Homo sapiens: one gene and its partners. The protein of the gene in region 1 interacts with the protein of each later gene in a pairwise test. Each region holds a gene or a part of one and is shown in the gene's direction. Other genes may lie near its edges.

Evidence for each region.
Region 2: the proteins of CEP126 (region 1) and LPL interact in a two-hybrid assay, tested with the Homo sapiens proteins (one large-scale study listed by BioGRID and IntAct).
Region 3: the proteins of CEP126 (region 1) and KIF15 interact in a two-hybrid assay, tested with the Homo sapiens proteins (one large-scale study listed by BioGRID and IntAct).
Region 4: the proteins of CEP126 (region 1) and STAU2 interact in a two-hybrid assay, tested with the Homo sapiens proteins (one large-scale study listed by BioGRID and IntAct).
Region 5: the proteins of CEP126 (region 1) and RAB27A interact in a two-hybrid assay, tested with the Homo sapiens proteins (one large-scale study listed by BioGRID and IntAct).

Annotation. Positions count from the first base shown.
Region 1 is NC_000011.10:101,917,990-101,921,509, forward strand, and holds part of CEP126 (centrosomal protein of 126 kDa), read left to right. Parts: intron 1-3,520. UniProt on the Homo sapiens protein: Participates in cytokinesis. Necessary for microtubules and mitotic spindle organization. Involved in primary cilium formation.
Region 2 is NC_000008.11:19,959,740-19,963,259, forward strand, and holds part of LPL (lipoprotein lipase precursor), read left to right. Parts: intron 1-1,161; coding exon 1,162-1,344; intron 1,345-2,375; coding exon 2,376-2,480; intron 2,481-3,520. UniProt on the Homo sapiens protein: Key enzyme in triglyceride metabolism.
Region 3 is NC_000003.12:44,796,278-44,799,797, forward strand, and holds part of KIF15 (kinesin-like protein KIF15), read left to right. Parts: intron 1-1,273; coding exon 1,274-1,399; intron 1,400-1,556; coding exon 1,557-1,679; intron 1,680-2,917; exon of another isoform or gene 2,918-3,011; coding exon of another isoform or gene 3,012-3,014; intron 3,015-3,520. UniProt on the Homo sapiens protein: Plus-end directed kinesin-like motor enzyme involved in mitotic spindle assembly.
Region 4 is NC_000008.11:73,736,829-73,740,348, reverse strand, and holds part of STAU2 (double-stranded RNA-binding protein Staufen homolog 2), read left to right. Parts: intron 1-480; 5' UTR 481-593; intron 594-1,999; 5' UTR 2,000-2,047; coding exon of another isoform or gene 2,048-2,065; intron 2,066-3,520. UniProt on the Homo sapiens protein: RNA-binding protein required for the microtubule-dependent transport of neuronal RNA from the cell body to the dendrite.
Region 5 is NC_000015.10:55,230,805-55,234,324, reverse strand, and holds part of RAB27A (ras-related protein Rab-27A), read left to right. Parts: intron 1-3,520. UniProt on the Homo sapiens protein: Small GTPase which cycles between active GTP-bound and inactive GDP-bound states. In its active state, binds to a variety of effector proteins to regulate homeostasis of late endocytic pathway, including endosomal positioning, maturation and secretion.

The DNA of each region.
Region 1 (3,520 bases):
TCACCTTCCATCACACTCGATAGACTGTCTTACCACTTGATAAGACTTGGATGCCCTGACAGGTCTGTTCCAACAAACAGCACAAACACACACACTCCCACCCACCTGTCTTTTTTTCCCCCCAGGCTCACTGATGGGATCTTACTTTTACTATAGAAAGTGAAGTGAACCCATTCAGCTGGGCCCAGTGGCTCACATCTGTAATCCTAGCACTTTGGGAGGCCGAGGTAGGCAGATTGCTTGAGTCCAGGAGTTCGAAACCAGCCTGGGCAACGTGGTGAAACCATATCTCTACAAAAAATACAAAAATTAGCTGTGTGTTGTGGTGCATGCTTGTAGTACCATCTACTTAAGAGGCTGAGGCAGGAAGATTGCTTGAGACTGCGAGGTGGAGGTTGCAGTGAGCCGAGATTATGCCACTGCACTCCAGCCTAGGCAACAGAGTGAGACCCTGTCTATAAATAAATAAATAAATTGTATTTTGCTAATACATACATAATAAAACATAGTTTTGTACCTTGTGTTTCTAAAAGGTACTGCCCCATGCTCATGAGATTTTGAAACTTAGGTACATAATACATTTCTAATGGCATATACTTTTGTATAACCCCCTTAGGAGCCAAGTTTTCTATAATGCACTAAAAGATATAAAAATGCATATGCCTTTTGTCCTCATATCTACCCCAGAGAATTTTCTCCAAGGGAATAATTCAGGAGGTTTTTATTAAATCATTACTATATTCTAAGAACCATGCCAGGCGTGAGAGTTACAGAAATGTAGAGAAGACACTTATCATGTACTCATGAAGGTGTCATCAAGTCATCTAGTGGAGGTTAGAAAAGGCTTCAAGGTAGAACGAACTGCTTGAGATGGCCCTGAAAGGATGAGTAGAGTTAGCCAAGCATGTGCCAAGAGATAATGGTATGATACATCACGGGTTGTTCTGTTTATAATTATCTTAGTGCGTCTGGACATAGGATTCATACAGGGAAATGTTAAGAAATAAAGTTGAAAAAACAAACTATATTATAGAATGGTTTATATATAGGTCCAAGAACTTTGGAATTTTTCATGAAGGTGATAGGGAGCTTTTGGAGAACAACAAAGAGAAACACAATCAGATTTGCATTTAGCTGACTTTGTGTAGGTTCAAATAGAGGTTTAGAGTAAGAAGAATTAGAGGAGCACTGTAGTCGTCCAAGCAAGGGATTTAGAGTACCTGAGTTAAGGGAGAGGAAGAAGGTACAGTAGAGGAAAAATCGAATCAACATAGCTTTAATAGATTTGGGGAAAAAATGGGTTATATAATACATAGTTATTTGTGATGGCAACATTTTAAACAACCTAACTGGATAAAAGACTAAGTTGGGAGAGGAGAAGTGAGGATAGAGTGGGGTAGAATAAGCTATGCTTTAAAATCACATGTTACAATACATATTATTCTTGGTTTTGTTTTTTTAATGTTAAGTATATAAAAATTCCCTTCTTTTGGACAGGTATTTAGCAGTGTTTTTTTTATGGAACTCCTACCTTTACCATACAGCTTGTATAAAAAAACAAAATTTAACCAGCCATCTAATTTTTTTAAACTTGAATACCATATTTGAAATGATACAAAAGCAGCAGGATTCTTTATATTAATAATTAATAATTCAGCAGGAAACATACTATACTATTATACTTATATATAAAGAAAGTAGAAAATCATTTGGTTAAATTGAAGACTATATAGTTGTCAGAACATTACAAACATTACATTTGTGATTTTCTTTATGCTGTCGTGATGAGACTTCAAACATGTCAAACAGAGAACAGAACTGTCTCCTCCTTGCTTCTCACTTAAGCCAAAGCATCTTCCTCCCCTCAACCTCATGTTGGCCCTGTGCACCCTGAAAGGAAGTTGCACTTTTCTTTACTGCCGAGTTGTCACTTTTAATACCTAGACATCTTGTTGAAGTCTGGCTCTTGTTAAAATATTCTATCAGAGAAAAACAGTTTTTCTGTGCTAGCAAAGAACCAAATTTTCTTCCCTTTTGGTTTGATTTTTATAAATCCTTTAAAAGAAATCTTTAAGTAAAAATATGTTTGTGAGTGTGTTTGGGTCTTTGTCTTGAAGTAGTGTAAAATTTTATTTAAAATGAAGGTAAAATGAATTATGGCCTATGGTATAAAGATGGTTAAATAGCAACACAAAAGAAAACAAATAAGCCCCCATCAGCAAAGGTCTAAACAACAAAATGTTCAAATAAACCTGTTATTCTGAAATATGTAATAATAGAGTTTCTTTATAATATTGATGCTGAAGCACTATAGGATCCTGAAATTAACATGTTGAATTAACAAATTATGTACCGCATAGTTTATTATTGAGTGTATTTCTAGTATTCTGTTTTACCATTAATAATCAATTTATGAGATTTTTACAATCTTGATTAAATGCAGCCTTTAAAGAGAATTTTGGACCTCCATCTTAGCGTAAAAAGTTTTTAAACAAGCTGTTTGTTCTAAAAAAGACAAATAGATATGCCCTACAATCTATAACTTCAGTATAATCTCATATATTTCTACATCTAATGATGAGGTACTAAATGTGATTACACGGTAATTCAATGAACTTTTTTTTTTTTTTTTGAGACAGAGTCTCGCTGTGTTGCCCAGGCTGGAGTATAGTGGCGTGTTCTTAGCTCACTGCAGACTCAACCCCCTCCAAGCTCAAGCGATCTTCCCACATCAGCCTCCCAAGTAGCTGGGGCTGCAGGCATACACCACCACACCTGGCTGATTTTTGCATTTTTTGTAGAGCCGGGGTTTCACCATATTGCCCAGGCTCATCTCAAACTCCTGGGCTCAAGCAGTCTGCCCACCTTGGCCTCCCAAATTGTTGGGATTACAGGTGTGAGCCACTGCGCCCAGCCAAATGAACTTCTTTTAATTCAAAATCATTAAAAACAGAAGACTCATGAAAAACAGAAAATTACTCTGACAAATTTGATAAAGATACTTAATAATGTCAATTAAAACGCAACTAAATAAATTGGAGAAATTACTCATATTGCTACAACTTATTTAAGGAGAGTTTAATTTTATAAAATAAATTTCAAGTGAATAGATGATTAGGATAACCAAAATATTCCTCTTTTTCTCTGACAAGCTTCTGGATACACAGATGACTATACATAGTTTTCCTAGTGGTTTTTTATAACCACTAAGTCACTAAGTAAATAACTAAACTGTATTCCTAACCATTCTAGTTATATTGCTATTTGATTGTTTAATATTTGAAAATGTACTTTCCTACTATAGATTAAGGGATCTGGTGAAACATTTACTCCATCTACTTTCTATTAGTAAAATACAATCTTCTTATTTCATTTTCTTATATTCATGACTATGAGGGCAACTTGTTAGTAAGTACTCAAATATCTGTGTAATGAGGCCAAGCACGGTGGCTCACGCCTGTAATCACACCACTATGGGAGGCCGAGGCAGGTGGATCACCTGAGGTTAGGAGTTCGAGAC
Region 2 (3,520 bases), on another chromosome or scaffold:
ATATAAGTAGTAAGAAGTCCATGACAAAGTGTTAGCTCTTTTTTTTTTTTTTTTTTTTTTTTTTTTTGAGATGGAGTCTCTCTCTATTGCCCAGGCTGGAGTGCAGTGATTCGATCTCAGCTCACTGCAACCTCTACCTCCCGAGTTCAAACAATTCTTCTGTCTCAGCCTCCCGAGTAGCTGGGGCTGCAGGTGCCCACCACCATGCCCAGCTAATTTTTGTATTTTTAGTAGCGACAGGGTCTCACCATGTTGGCCAAGCTGGTCTTGAATTCCTGATCTCAGGTGATCCACCCGCCTCGGCCTCCCAAAGTGCTGGGATTACAGGTGTGAGCCACCATGCCCAGCCTACCCTTTACTACTAATCAAAGAAATAAAAGTAAGGCAACTTGATACTTTTACAATTACTAGATGAACAAATCTTTAAAAATAGCCAGTGCAGACAAGGTGGTGAAGCAGAACATGCGAACCTACCATGCATCATTCACGGCTAGAACCCTCCAGGTGCGGAAGGTAGTATTTTAATAACTTTCCATAGCTACAAAATATTATTACATAGAAGGGAGTGATTTTTTTCTAATATTTATCCTAAAGAAATAGTCAACAAACATTTTTAAAAACATCAATTACAGTCGTACCTATACTAGCATAAATTAGAAACCCAGTATCCAACATTGAGGCAGTGGGTAAATGAATCGTGGTTTATCAAGTCATTAAAATCAATCTAGCCTTTAAAAACTATAATTGTAGGAAACCCAGGAAAACATAGTAAAAAATGGAATATAAAATCTGAAGAGAATAAAGAATAGAGAATCGTATGTGTGCTATGATTGTAGCTAAATAATGTTCAAGTATCAACACAAATTGAAAAGGAATACATGAAAATGAAAATTATATTTCTGAATGATTGACTTCAGGATTTTCTTTTAGAATTGTATTAAATAGTTCATGTCATTAGGATAAATGCTGGAATGTGGATATAATTTAAAATATACTAAATGCCATCGACCTTCATTTTGAGTTCTTTGTTGGACATTTTTGTGCATTTTTAAAATATCCCCTAAATAATAAAGCTATTTATATTTGGAGAGGAGAAAAAAAAGTGGGGGGCAGGGAGAGCTGATCTCTATAACTAACCAAATTTATTGCTTTTTTGTTTAGGCCTGAAGTTTCCACAAATAAGACCTACTCCTTCCTAATTTACACAGAGGTAGATATTGGAGAACTACTCATGTTGAAGCTCAAATGGAAGAGTGATTCATACTTTAGCTGGTCAGACTGGTGGAGCAGTCCCGGCTTCGCCATTCAGAAGATCAGAGTAAAAGCAGGAGAGACTCAGAAAAAGTAATTAAATGTATTTTTCTTCCTTCACTTTAGACCCCCACCTGATGTCAGGACCTAGGGGCTGTATTTCAGGGGCCTTCACAATTCAGGGAGAGCTTTAGGAAACCTTGTATTTATTACTGTATGATGTAGATTTTCTTTAGGAGTCTTCTTTTATTTTCTTATTTTTGGGGGGCAGGGGGGGGGAAGTGACAGTATTTTTGTATTTCATGTAAGGAAAACATAAGCCCTGAATCGCTCACAGTTATTCAGTGAGAGCTGGGATTAGAAGTCAGGAATCTCAGCTTCTCATTTGGCACTGTTTCTTGTAAGTACAAAATAGTTAGGGAACAAACCTCCGAGATGCTACCTGGATAATCAAAGATTCAAACCAACCTCTTCAAGAAGGGTGAGATTCCAAGATAATCTCAACCTGTCTCCGCAGCCCCACCCATGTGTACCCATAAAATGAATTACACAGAGATCGCTATAGGATTTAAAGCTTTTATACTAAATGTGCTGGGATTTTGCAAACTATAGTGTGCTGTTATTGTTAATTTAAAAAAACTCTAAGTTAGGATTGACAAATTATTTCTCTTTAGTCATTTGCTTGTATCACCAAAGAAGCAAACAAACAAACAAAAAAAAAAAGAAAAAGATCTTGGGGATGGAAATGTTATAAAGAATCTTTTTTACACTAGCAATGTCTAGCTGAAGGCAGATGCCCTAATTCCTTAATGCAGATGCTAAGAGATGGCAGAGTTGATCTTTTATCATCTCTTGGTGAAAGCCCAGTAACATAAGACTGCTCTAGGCTGTCTGCATGCCTGTCTATCTAAATTAACTAGCTTGGTTGCTGAACACCAGGTTAGGCTCTCAAATTACCCTCTGATTCTGATGTGGCCTGAGTGTGACAGTTAATTATTGGGAATATCAAAACAATTACCCAGCATGATCATGTATTATTTAAACAGTCCTGACAGAACTGTACCTTTGTGAACAGTGCTTTTGATTGTTCTACATGGCATATTCACATCCATTTTCTTCCACAGGGTGATCTTCTGTTCTAGGGAGAAAGTGTCTCATTTGCAGAAAGGAAAGGCACCTGCGGTATTTGTGAAATGCCATGACAAGTCTCTGAATAAGAAGTCAGGCTGGTGAGCATTCTGGGCTAAAGCTGACTGGGCATCCTGAGCTTGCACCCTAAGGGAGGCAGCTTCATGCATTCCTCTTCACCCCATCACCAGCAGCTTGCCCTGACTCATGTGATCAAAGCATTCAATCAGTCTTTCTTAGTCCTTCTGCATATGTATCAAATGGGTCTGTTGCTTTATGCAATACTTCCTCTTTTTTTCTTTCTCCTCTTGTTTCTCCCAGCCCGGACCTTCAACCCAGGCACACATTTTAGGTTTTATTTTACTCCTTGAACTACCCCTGAATCTTCACTTCTCCTTTTTTCTCTACTGCGTCTCTGCTGACTTTGCAGATGCCATCTGCAGAGCATGTAACACAAGTTTAGTAGTTGCCGTTCTGGCTGTGGGTGCAGCTCTTCCCAGGATGTATTCAGGGAAGTAAAAAGATCTCACTGCATCACCTGCAGCCACATAGTTCTTGATTCTCCAAGTGCCAGCATACTCCGGGACACACAGCCAACAGGGCTGCCCCAAGCACCCATCTCAAAACCCTCAAAGCTGCCAAGCAAACAGAATGAGAGTTATAGGAAACTGTTCTCTCTTCTATCTCCAAACAACTCTGTGCCTCTTTCCTACCTGACCTTTAGGGCTAATCCATGTGGCAGCTGTTAGCTGCATCTTTCCAGAGCGTCAGTACTGAGAGGACACTAAGCATGTGACCTTCACTACTCCTGTTCTGAATTCCAGGAATATGCCCTTTTCAACCCTCCACACATCCCCTGCCAGACAGCAAGTGCTAATGGGTTACAGGAACAAAGGGGAGAAATATTAGATCATGTCATACAAGCCAGTGACACAAGAAATGAAGGGAAAGGCTAGACACAGTGTCATCTGGAAACAGGAAAAGCAATTGCTTTTGGTTTGTTCTTTTCCTAGTTTGCATTTGGGACAAATGTATAGAATAAGAATTGCCTTCATGCCTGCAATCCCAGCACTTTGGGAGGCTGAGGCAGGTGGATCACCTGAGGTCAGGAGTTTGAGACCAGCCTGGCCAACGTGGCGAA
Region 3 (3,520 bases), on another chromosome or scaffold:
GAACCCAGGAGGTCGAGATTGCAGTGAGCTGTGATTGTGCCACTGTGCTCCAACCTGGGTGACAGAGTGAGACTCTGTGTCAAAAAAAGCATATGCTTATAATAGGACATATACCAAGTCTGTTCTAAAATGCTTTACATATATTAATTCATTTAACCTTCCCAACAACTCTGGGAAGTAGGTGCTATTCTTTCTATTTTACAGTTAAAGAAACCGAAGTCACACAGCTAATAAAGGTAGAGCTGAGATTCAAACCGAGCTGCTACAGTACTCTCAACCATGCCACTAACCACCTTTCTGATTTACTGAATGATAACAGCAGTGACTCTGAATTCAGTACATCTTGCATTATAATTTTGACTTTTTCTCTTTTTTGTATACTCCTTCCACTGCAGACCCAGTTTTCAAAATATGCTACCTACAGTAAAAATCTAATGTAACGTATTTAGCTCATTTTTTCCCCCCACCAAGCTTCTGTTTTAAAGTAGTTTTTATTATCCTTTACAGAATTAAACTGAATATTCTCCTCAAATAAGTTCATCAGTGGCTTTGGGGGCTGTATGGGTGAGTTATTAGGCATTATACCCTTAAATATTTTAGCATAAAAGGATTGAAAAAAGTACCTATTAATGCACTACTCTAGCTTTTTTTTCCCTATTTTTTTCTGGTCTTTATAGCTCGGTTTCAAACTATTACAATCATGAAGTGACATTAATATTTTTTTTCTTTGCATGATTTTTGTGTTTGTCTTTTTTTGTTGTTGTTTTTGAGAGAGGGTCTCACTCTGTCACCCAGGTTGTAGTGCAATGGCACAATCTCAGCTCACTGCAACCTCCACCTCCCAAGCTCAAGTGATCCTCCCACCTCAGCCTCCCAAGTAGCTGGGACTACAGGCATGTGCCACCATGCCCAGCAGTTTTTTGTATTTCTTTGTAGAGATGGGGTTTTGCCATGTTGCCCAGGCTGGTATCCAACTCCTGAGCTCAAGCAACCTGCCCACCTCGGCCTCCCAAAGTGCTGGGATGACTAGCATGAGCCACAGTGCCAGCCTGTGTTTGTCTTCTAATACTAAAATTACAGTGTACATCAAATAGGAAAAGGTTAGGGATAGTTCAGCACTTCTTTTTTATTTGTTGAATAGTTGTTCTTTATTAACATTGTCCCTGACTTGCCTTTTCATCCAGAATTTTCCTCTGCTAGATATATTTTCATTCAAAATACCAAAGAGTAACCAACGTACCTAAATTTTTGTTCTTTTCCGTCAACACTTTAGGAAGCAGGTAACATAAATCGATCATTGAGCTGCCTGGGCCAAGTGATTACAGCACTTGTCGACGTGGGTAATGGAAAACAGAGACATGTTTGCTACAGAGACTCCAAACTTACCTTCTTACTACGGGTAAAGTAGATCCTTGGGTTCCTGGGCTCCTTTTGGTTATGCTAAAGTTGATAGTGGGACAGTCTCTCAGCCTTGGTGGCAAGAGTATACATTTTCTTTGCTTAAAAAGGTCTTGTGATTTCTCACCGAAAATATGTTCATTCCTATCATTAAACAGGATTCCCTTGGAGGTAATGCCAAAACAGCCATAATTGCAAATGTTCATCCTGGATCCAGGTGTTTTGGGGAAACCCTATCAACACTTAACTTTGCTCAAAGAGCCAAGCTGATTAAAAACAAGGTAAAATACTGGCGTATACTTCATTAAATAAATGAGAAAAATACTAAAGCTTACAGTATGCCATTTTTGTGATTGCCCTAATATTAACATTAACTTTTATTTATTTCTCATTGTATGCAAAATTTCTATTTTATCTTTCCTACCCTTCTATATCACACATGTAATTAGAGACCTAGGTTAGATCTTATGGTTGTTATTGCTTGACTAGTTTTTTCTTTTTTTTTGAGACACAGTCTTGCTGTGTCACCCAGGCTGGAGTGCAGTGGTGCAAACACAGCTCACTCTAGCCTCAACTTCCTGGGCTCAAGCGATCCTCCTGCCTCAGCCTCCTGTGTAGCTGGAACTACAGGCATGCAGCACCATGCCAGGCTAATTTTTTTATTTTTTTAATTTTTATTTTATTTATTTTTTATTTATTTATTTTTTTGAGACAGAGTCTTGCTCTGTCACCCAGGCTAGAGTGCAGTGGTGCGATCTCTGCTCAGCTGGGACTACAGGCGCCCACCACCACGCCCGGCTAATTTTTTGTATTTTTTAGTAGAGACGGGATTTCACCGTGTTAGCCAGGATGATCTCGATCTCCTGACCTCGTGATCCGTCTGCCTTGGCCTTAATTTTTTTATTTTTTGTACAGGTAGGATCTCACTTTGTTGCCCAGGCTCGTCTCAAACTCCTAGGTTCAAGCAGTCCTCCTGCCTCATCCTTTCAAAGTGCTGGGATTACAGGTGTGAACCACTGTACCCAGCTGACAAATTTTTTCTTAAGGGAAAGCAAATTAAGTATGTGAGTCTTTCTTCCTGCCAACAGCCAATCAATCAGTTCTGCAGCAGACATCAGCTGAGTGTCTTCTGATTCAGTTCCATCCTGACACTTTATGTCTGGAGATAGGGTGAGATCTCACAGGTTCAGGGCTCAGTCCTACAAGACTGCGCCCAACTTCTGATGCCAATTGCAAGCCCCAGCTTGTCCTATCTGTGCTTTCAGACCAACTGGCTGTAAATCAGGAGGTCCATGTTGCCCCTTTCCCTGGGTAAATCAGAAGACTATAGATCTAGTCATTTATTTTATTTCCTTGGACTATGGAGTACTAGTAAGATGAGGAGGAAAAATCATTAGAGCTTCCTGACCCTAAGTCTCTTAAGATTTACTAGAAGTCTTTGGAGATATAGAACTGCAGCAATAATTAGAATTATGAAGTCACTGATGGGACAGTGATGTCAGAAGTGCAGTAGTACCTTGTAATGAGGCTGGCCATAAGAATCAGAAGCAACTGGAAATGGCTGCTTAACACACAAAAGAACAAAACCAAGAGCCTTCTACTAGTCACTCTCAATGGTAAGCCCTTTGCAGCCTATCAGTGGAAAGTGCCAGAGTATCTGGGACTTGTTTAAGGATGTGCTATTTAAATTTTTCCGTGAGCAAATTGGGCTTACAGCGAGAATACAGAAGACCTTGGGGCTGTCACAGGGTGTTTTTTCCTTGCTGGAGTACTGAGTATTTCACAACTGAGTCCTCTGACCTGGTTGGTACTCAGCTGTTGGCACTCGTTATCACCCTTTAGGCTTTGTGGACCTTTTTAAAGCTTTATTTTTTTAATTAATCAACTTTTTTTTTTTTTTTGAGATAGAGTCTCGCTCTGTCAACAGGCTGGAGTGCAGTGGCGCACATGTGTGACCTGCCCCACTCTTGACATCCTGCCCCACAGTGGCACATTTTGTTTGTGAGTCCTTTAGCCTTTTAGAAGTTGTCCTAAATAAGACATTTCTTTAAGAAAATGAAGATAATCATTTAGTGTGGTAAAAAATTAAAAAAAAAAAAAAAAAGGAAGTGTCAAACCAACC
Region 4 (3,520 bases), on another chromosome or scaffold:
TGGGAATATTGAATTATAGAGTTGGACAGGATAGTCTTATTTATTGTTGCATAGCACATTGCACCAGAATTTAAGGACTTAAGACAACAAACATTATCTTACAGTTTCTGTGGGTTAGAAATCTGGGTGCAGCTTAGCTGGGTGCCTGTGGCTCATAAAAGAGGTGGTAGTCAAGCTGTCAGTTGGGGTTGCAGTCACATCTGGAAGCTCTACTGGTGGAAGATCTGTTTCTGAACTCATTCATGTGGCTCTTGCAGGGTTCAGTTTCCTGGGGCTCTTGGACTGAAGAAATCAATTGTTGCTGGCTGTTGGCCAGAGGCTTTTCTCAGTTCTTTGCCATATGGGCCTCTCCAAAGGGCACCACAGTTTGGCATCTGCCTCCCTCTGAGCAAATGAGTGAGAGAAGGTGACACCTAAGAATTTTTATAACCTAATCTTGGAAGTGGTATCTCATTATTTCTGCTATATTCTATTTGTTAGAGGCTGCCTACCACAAGGACTTTAGCTTACTTTTTAAAGATTGAAGAAAAAAAAGAAGACAGAAAAAGAAGAACTCAAAGATACACAAAGTAATTTGAACCAAGGCTCAGAAGGTAATCTGAAGAACTTTGACTAAAACTCAAATTCACCAATATCCAGGCCGTGTGCTCTTTATACAGCATCCCGTTCTCATAGGAAATGTGACAGTAATTAGAAAATAAATAAAAATTGATGCAGATGCTGAGGACACTATTGTAAGAAAAATATTAAAGTTTTCAAAGTCATTTTGAATGGACTCTAGTTTGTCATCTTGAAAAAATGGTAGCCAAATATGGGTGTGTGTTTGTGTATGTATGTGTGTACTTACAAAACGTTTGCTTCCAGGGGAAAGTTCAATATTAAAATTTAGCAGCATAACAGTTTCTATACAGGTGATTAGATATAGGCCTTTTGCTGTGTATCACAATTGTGTTGTTGCTTTAGATAATTTTTAGGGGAGAGGTCTGTATATAATTTATATTTTATATAAACTTTTTTTCATTACAAGATCCCATGATTTATTTATTTGTAATTTGGACTTTCCTGCCCTTCATTGGCATCTGTTTTCAAATTAAAATTTTTTTTTTTTTTTTTTTTGAGATGGAGTCTCGCTCTGTCGCCTAGGCTGGAGTGCAATGGCGCAATCTCGGCTCACTGCAACCTCTGCCTCCTGGGTTCAAGCAATTCTCCTGCCTCAGCCTCCTGAGTAGCTGAGATTACAGGCACGCGCCACCATGCCTGGCTAATTTTTGTATTTTTGGTAGAGGCAGGGTTTTCACCATGTTGGCCAGGCTGGTCCCGAACTCCTGAACTCAAATGATCCACCCACCTTGGCCTCCCAAAATGCTGGGATTACCACGCCCAGCCTGAAATTTTAATATACATACTATTTTTATACTGATGATAACAGACAAAATGACAGAGAAAAAGAAACTATTCAGCAAGATAATTGTACTATATGCTCTTTTCCATACCATCTAAGAGAATACTTGTGGTGTTGCATCTTCTTTAGGATTAATTTATCGTATAGAAGATGGGAACAAAGCTGTTTAAAACAGGACTGCAAAAAGGGAAGTATACATTAAATATTAACCTGAAACTCTCAGATTTATTTTTAACAGCTTCACTTTTGTTGGGATTGTCTTAGAAGTCTAGAAGCAGAAGGAGCTTTGTTCAGATCTGTACTGTCCAGTATGGTGGCTACTAGTGACGTAGTTATTCAAGTGAACATGAAAGAAAATTAAATATTATTTTCTTGATTGCTCTAGCCACATTTCAAGTGCTCAGTAGCCACATGTGGCTAATGACTTCCAGATTGGACAGTGCAAGTACAGAACATTTTTATCATCATAGAAAGTTCTATGGAGATCTGGATAAATTACATTTTATATTTGATTTTGATCAAGGGCATGTGTTTAAAATACCAGTCATTGAGGTTATCAGCTAAGTTGAACTTTATTTCTTCATTTTCGTTTTCCAGTTTTTGGAGCCGTGAGGGATACAGCAGTTTGGTCAATATTGTCTTAACATGCTTCAAATAAATCAGGTGAGTTTGTGTTAAGGCATTTTTCATGCTTACATGGTGCTTTGGCTGTAAATTGTGGAACATTTTAACTCAGCTTTTCTTTTCTATAACTGTAACCTGACTCATCACTTTTTAAAGCAGTTACCTACTGTATAGTCATCATTGGAGGCTGTGTAGGGCAGGTTGTTTAAGGATTAGAATGATCTTCTGAAAGTTGATAACTTCTGGTTGTGCAAGGCAGAAGGTTTGTCTGTTCTTCTTGATGTCACATCCCTTTAGGACTTGTTAATGTGTTCAGAATGCTTATGATCATGATACAGCTTCAGTAGGTGGCAGTTCTGCAGACTCAAAGCATTTTTAGTGACAAATCTTGTGAAGTAGTTGTATCTGTTTTTTTTTTTTTTTTAAAGTTCACTTTCCAGGGCACTGAAAAACACTAGAAGGAAGTGCCCTGATAAACTACAGCATTTAATACTTTAGACTCACTGAAAGAAGTGCTTTTCTTAGTTCTTGACGTTTCTCCAAGAACTTTATACATTTAATTTTACCTTTCCCGATCAAATAGAACATTGTATCATAACTATAGTGTTAGAAAATACTTTTGGCCAGGCTGGGTGGCTCAAACCTGTAGTCCCAGCACTTTCTGAGGTGAGGTGGGAGGATCTCTTGAGCCCAGGAGTTTGAGCCAGACTGGGTAACGTAGTAAGACCCTGTCTCTTAAAAACAAAAAAAAAAAAAAGGAAAGAAACAAAATACTTTTATTTCTTTTGATTGCAAATCAACAGAGAAGTAATTAAACTTTTTTTCTTTTCCCCTGTGATTAAGAAAGTAATCGACTGGGCACGGTGGCTCACACCTGTAATCCCAGCACTTTGGGAGGCCAAGGCGGGCAGATCACCTGAGGTCGGGAGTCCGAGACCAGCCTGGCCAACATGGGGAAACCCCGTCTCTACTAAAAAATACAAAATTAGCCAGGCATGGTGGTGCGTGCCTGTAATCCCAGCTACTCGGGAGGCTGAGGCAGGAGAATCACTTGAACCCGGGAGGCGGAGGTTGCGGTGAGCCAAGATCGTGCCATTGCACTCCACCCTGGGCAAAAAGAGTGAGACTGTCTCAAAAAAAAAACAAAAGTAATCTTGGCCAGGCGTGGTCGCTCACGCCTGTAATCCCAGCACTTTGGGAGACGAAGGCAGGTAGATCACCTGAGATCAGGAGATCAAGACCAGCATGGCCAACATGGTGAAACCCCATCTTTACTAAAAATACAAAAAAATCAGCCAGTCATGGTGGTGCACACCTGTAGTCCCAGCTACTTGGGAGGCTGAGGCAGAAGAGTTGCTTGAACCCAGCAGACGGAGGTTGCAGTGAGCTGAGATCACACCACTGCACTCCAGCCTGGGCTACAGAGCGAGATGCGTTCCAAAAAAAGAAAGTAATCTTGACCCCCTGCCTTCCGACATATAGTCCTGCTCACCT
Region 5 (3,520 bases), on another chromosome or scaffold:
AGGTTGGAGTAGGAGTGGGGAATGCCAGTAGTGAATGTGATGTTCTGCAGAATGTTGAAGGGAGAAACTTTTATTTATTTATTTTTTAAGGACTTTGAGACTGAAAGTTATTCTAGTGTTGGAGGGGAAGGCAGAAGGTCATGGTGTCACAGTTGCAGATGAGGAAAGATGGCTTTCTCCTTAGACTACATTTCTTGTTGAAAAATCCATTGTTGGCCTGAAGCAGGTAAACCAGTTGTCAGGAAATTAATGACAAAGGTCCTTTAATGGATCATATTCTGTCAGGGGGAAAGGTCCCTGGCTTTTAAGACAGAAGAACATTCCCTTTTGCCCATTCTAGTATTTTATTCTACTACCAGAGAGGCTTATAGAGATTAAGACCCACTGAATAACAGTAGGGCCCTAATGAAATTTTTAGTATTGACGTGTAGTTGATAGAATCTACATATATGTATGTGATTATTTTTGTTGGTTACTTATTGTATAACTTAAAAAATAGATTTGTTGAGATATAATTCACAAAAAAAGGAAATCCATCCATCTAAAGTATAAAATTCGGTGGTTTTTAATATATTCGGAGTTGTGTGGCCATCACAGCCATTCAATTTTAGAATAGTTTCATCACTTTAAAAAGAAACCTCATACCTATTAGCAGGCATTCCTCTTTCTACCTCCCCTTAGCCACCATGAATTTTCTATCAATGGCTTCTGCACACACCATATAAATGGAATAATATATGGCCTTTTGTGTCTGGCTTCTTACATTCAGCCTGATGTTTTCAAGGATCTTCCATGTTGTAGCATGTATCAGGACTTCATTACTTATTATAGCTACATAATATTCTATTGTATTGATACACCATTTTGTTTATCCATTTGTCTGTTGATAGATACTGTTGTTTCTTTTTCTATTTTCTAGTGCATCATTTTAATTCCCTTTTTTGTTATATGTTTTTGAGTTCTTTTTTAAAAATTCCCTTGGGGATTACAATTATCTTAATTTTTCACAATCTAATTTTGATTAATAGCAACTTAATTTTAATACTGTGTAAAACTTTGCTCTTATGTGGCTCTGTTTTCTCCCATATTTTTGTGCCATTATTGCTATACGAATGACATCTTTCTACATTGTGTGCCATCATCAATACAGCTTTACAATTATTGCTGTATGCAGTTAATTTTTTTTTCTTTTTTCTTTTTGAGACAGGGTCTCTCTCTGTTGCTCAGACTGGAGTGCAGTGGTGAGATCTCAGCTCACCGCAACCTCTGTCTCCCAGGTTCAAGTGATTCTCCTGCCTCAGTCTCCCAAGTAGCTAGGATTACAGGCACCCGCCACCACACCCGGCTAATTGTTTATATTTTTAGTAGTAATGGGGTTTTGCCATGTTGGCCAGGCTGGTCTCGAACTCCTGGCCTCAAGTGATCCACCCATCTTAGCCTCCCAAAGTGCTGAGGGATTACAGGCATGAGCTATCACTCCCAGCCTGCAGTTAAATTTTAATCTAGTGGAGGAAAAGGGCTACAAAGAAAAACCACGTTTATACTGTTTTTTATATTTACTATGCAGTTACATTTTTACTGGTGCTTATTATTTCTTTGTGTGGATTTAAGTTACTGTCTAGTTTCCTTTCAGCTTAGTCTTGAGAGTTGTCTGTAGTATTTCTTGTAGGATAGGTCTGCTAGAGATGACTTTTCTCAGTTTTGTCTTAATTTATCCTTTAATTTTAGAGGACCGCTATGTTACTGATTTTTAAGTTCTTTGAATATATTTATAATTCCTGATGTAAAGTCTTTGTCTAATAAGTTTAACATCTGGGCCTCCTCAGGAATAATTTCTATTCGTTGTTTTTTTCCTGCGCATGAGCCATACTTTCCTGTTTCTTTGTGTGTCTTATACGTTTTGCTGAAAACTGGACATTTAAAATAATGTGTCTATTCTAGAAACTCAGATTCTTTCCCCTACCTGGGTTTCTTGTTTTTACTGCATATTTATTTATTTTTGTCGTTGCTGTTTGTTTAATTATGTTTCTGGGATAATTCTGCAAAATCTGTATTCTTTGTATGCAGCTACTGAAGTCTCTGCTCAGTCAACTTAGTGGACAGCTAATGAGTGGAGAGAGTTTATTAAATTCCTTGAACTAATAAGTCTCTTAGCTTTTTCTGAGAGTCTCTGTGTGTTTGTTGGGGTATGTGTTTAATACTACTGCAGGCAGTTTACAACTCTGCCTTAGCTTTTATTTTCTGCCTGAGAAGAACCTCAAAGTCAGTCAGAAGTGAGAGATTAGGACCTTTTTAGATCTTTCCTGGGCATTTGTAGAGCCCTGCCCATGAACATGGCCTTTTAGGTTCCAAGGAATATTTGGGAGCATTATAGAAATCTCATTTCCTATTTTTTTCTTTAAATTTTTTTTTTGTTGTTGTTGTTAGACTTTTGTTAGCCCTAACTGGTATTGCTACCTCTGGTAGCTGTGATGTTAAATAATTACTGCTGATAGTTTTCAACAAATGCCCTTGGGATAGGGCTGTTCTCAAAGAGCAAGCTTTGAGTGAGGTCAAAGAAAGACAAAGCTGGGGCATGGAGCTTTCCAAGGGGCTTCCTGACAATTTTTCTCAGTATGGGACTTTTAGGGAGCTCCAAACCTGTTGTTCCTCTGCTGTCCACAGTGGTGGCTAGGCTGATGTTTTCACAACAACCACATTTGTGCACATGGTTTTTAAGTCTTCTAAAAGCTTGAGTGAGGGGGATGGGAATAGGGCAAGGTAAAAAACACCTCAAAGCTTACTGTTTTTACTGATATTCGGCTGTTTTTCTTGAATAAATGCTCCTTGGAATGTTGCAAGTCTTTGTTAATTCCTAGAGTACTGAAAAAGTTGATTTGGACAATTTTTACCACTGTTTTTGTTGCTATTGTGGAGGAAGAAATTTTTGATGGTCCGTTCTCTGCTGTTCTAGGAGTGTTGTCTATAAAATTCTTTTAAGAGCACTTTTAAAATTTGGGATGGGACAAGGGAAAATTGTTCTACCAAAAATACATCTGCACTCAAATGTTTATTGCAGCACTATTCACAATAGCAAAGTCATGGAACTAACCCTAGGTGCTTATCAGTGGTGGATTGGATAGAGAAAATGTGGTACATATACATCATAGAATACTATGCAGCCATAAAAAAGTGAAATTATGTCTTTTGCAGCAACATGGATAGAGCTGGGGACCATTATCCTCAGTGAATTAATGCAGAAACAGAAAATCAAATGCCACATGCATTCTCACTTATAAGTGGGAACTAAACAATGGGTACGCATGGACATAAAGACAGAAACAGTAGACACTAGGGACTCCAAAAGGGGGAAGGGAGTGGGAGAGGGGCTGAAAAACTACTTATTGGGTACTACATTCACTGTTTGGGTGATGAATTCAATAGATGCTCAAACCCCAGCATTATGCAATCTATCTACGTAACAAGCCTGCACATGTACCCCCTGGTTAAACAAACAAAAAAGATGAGATTGGGAAAAGCC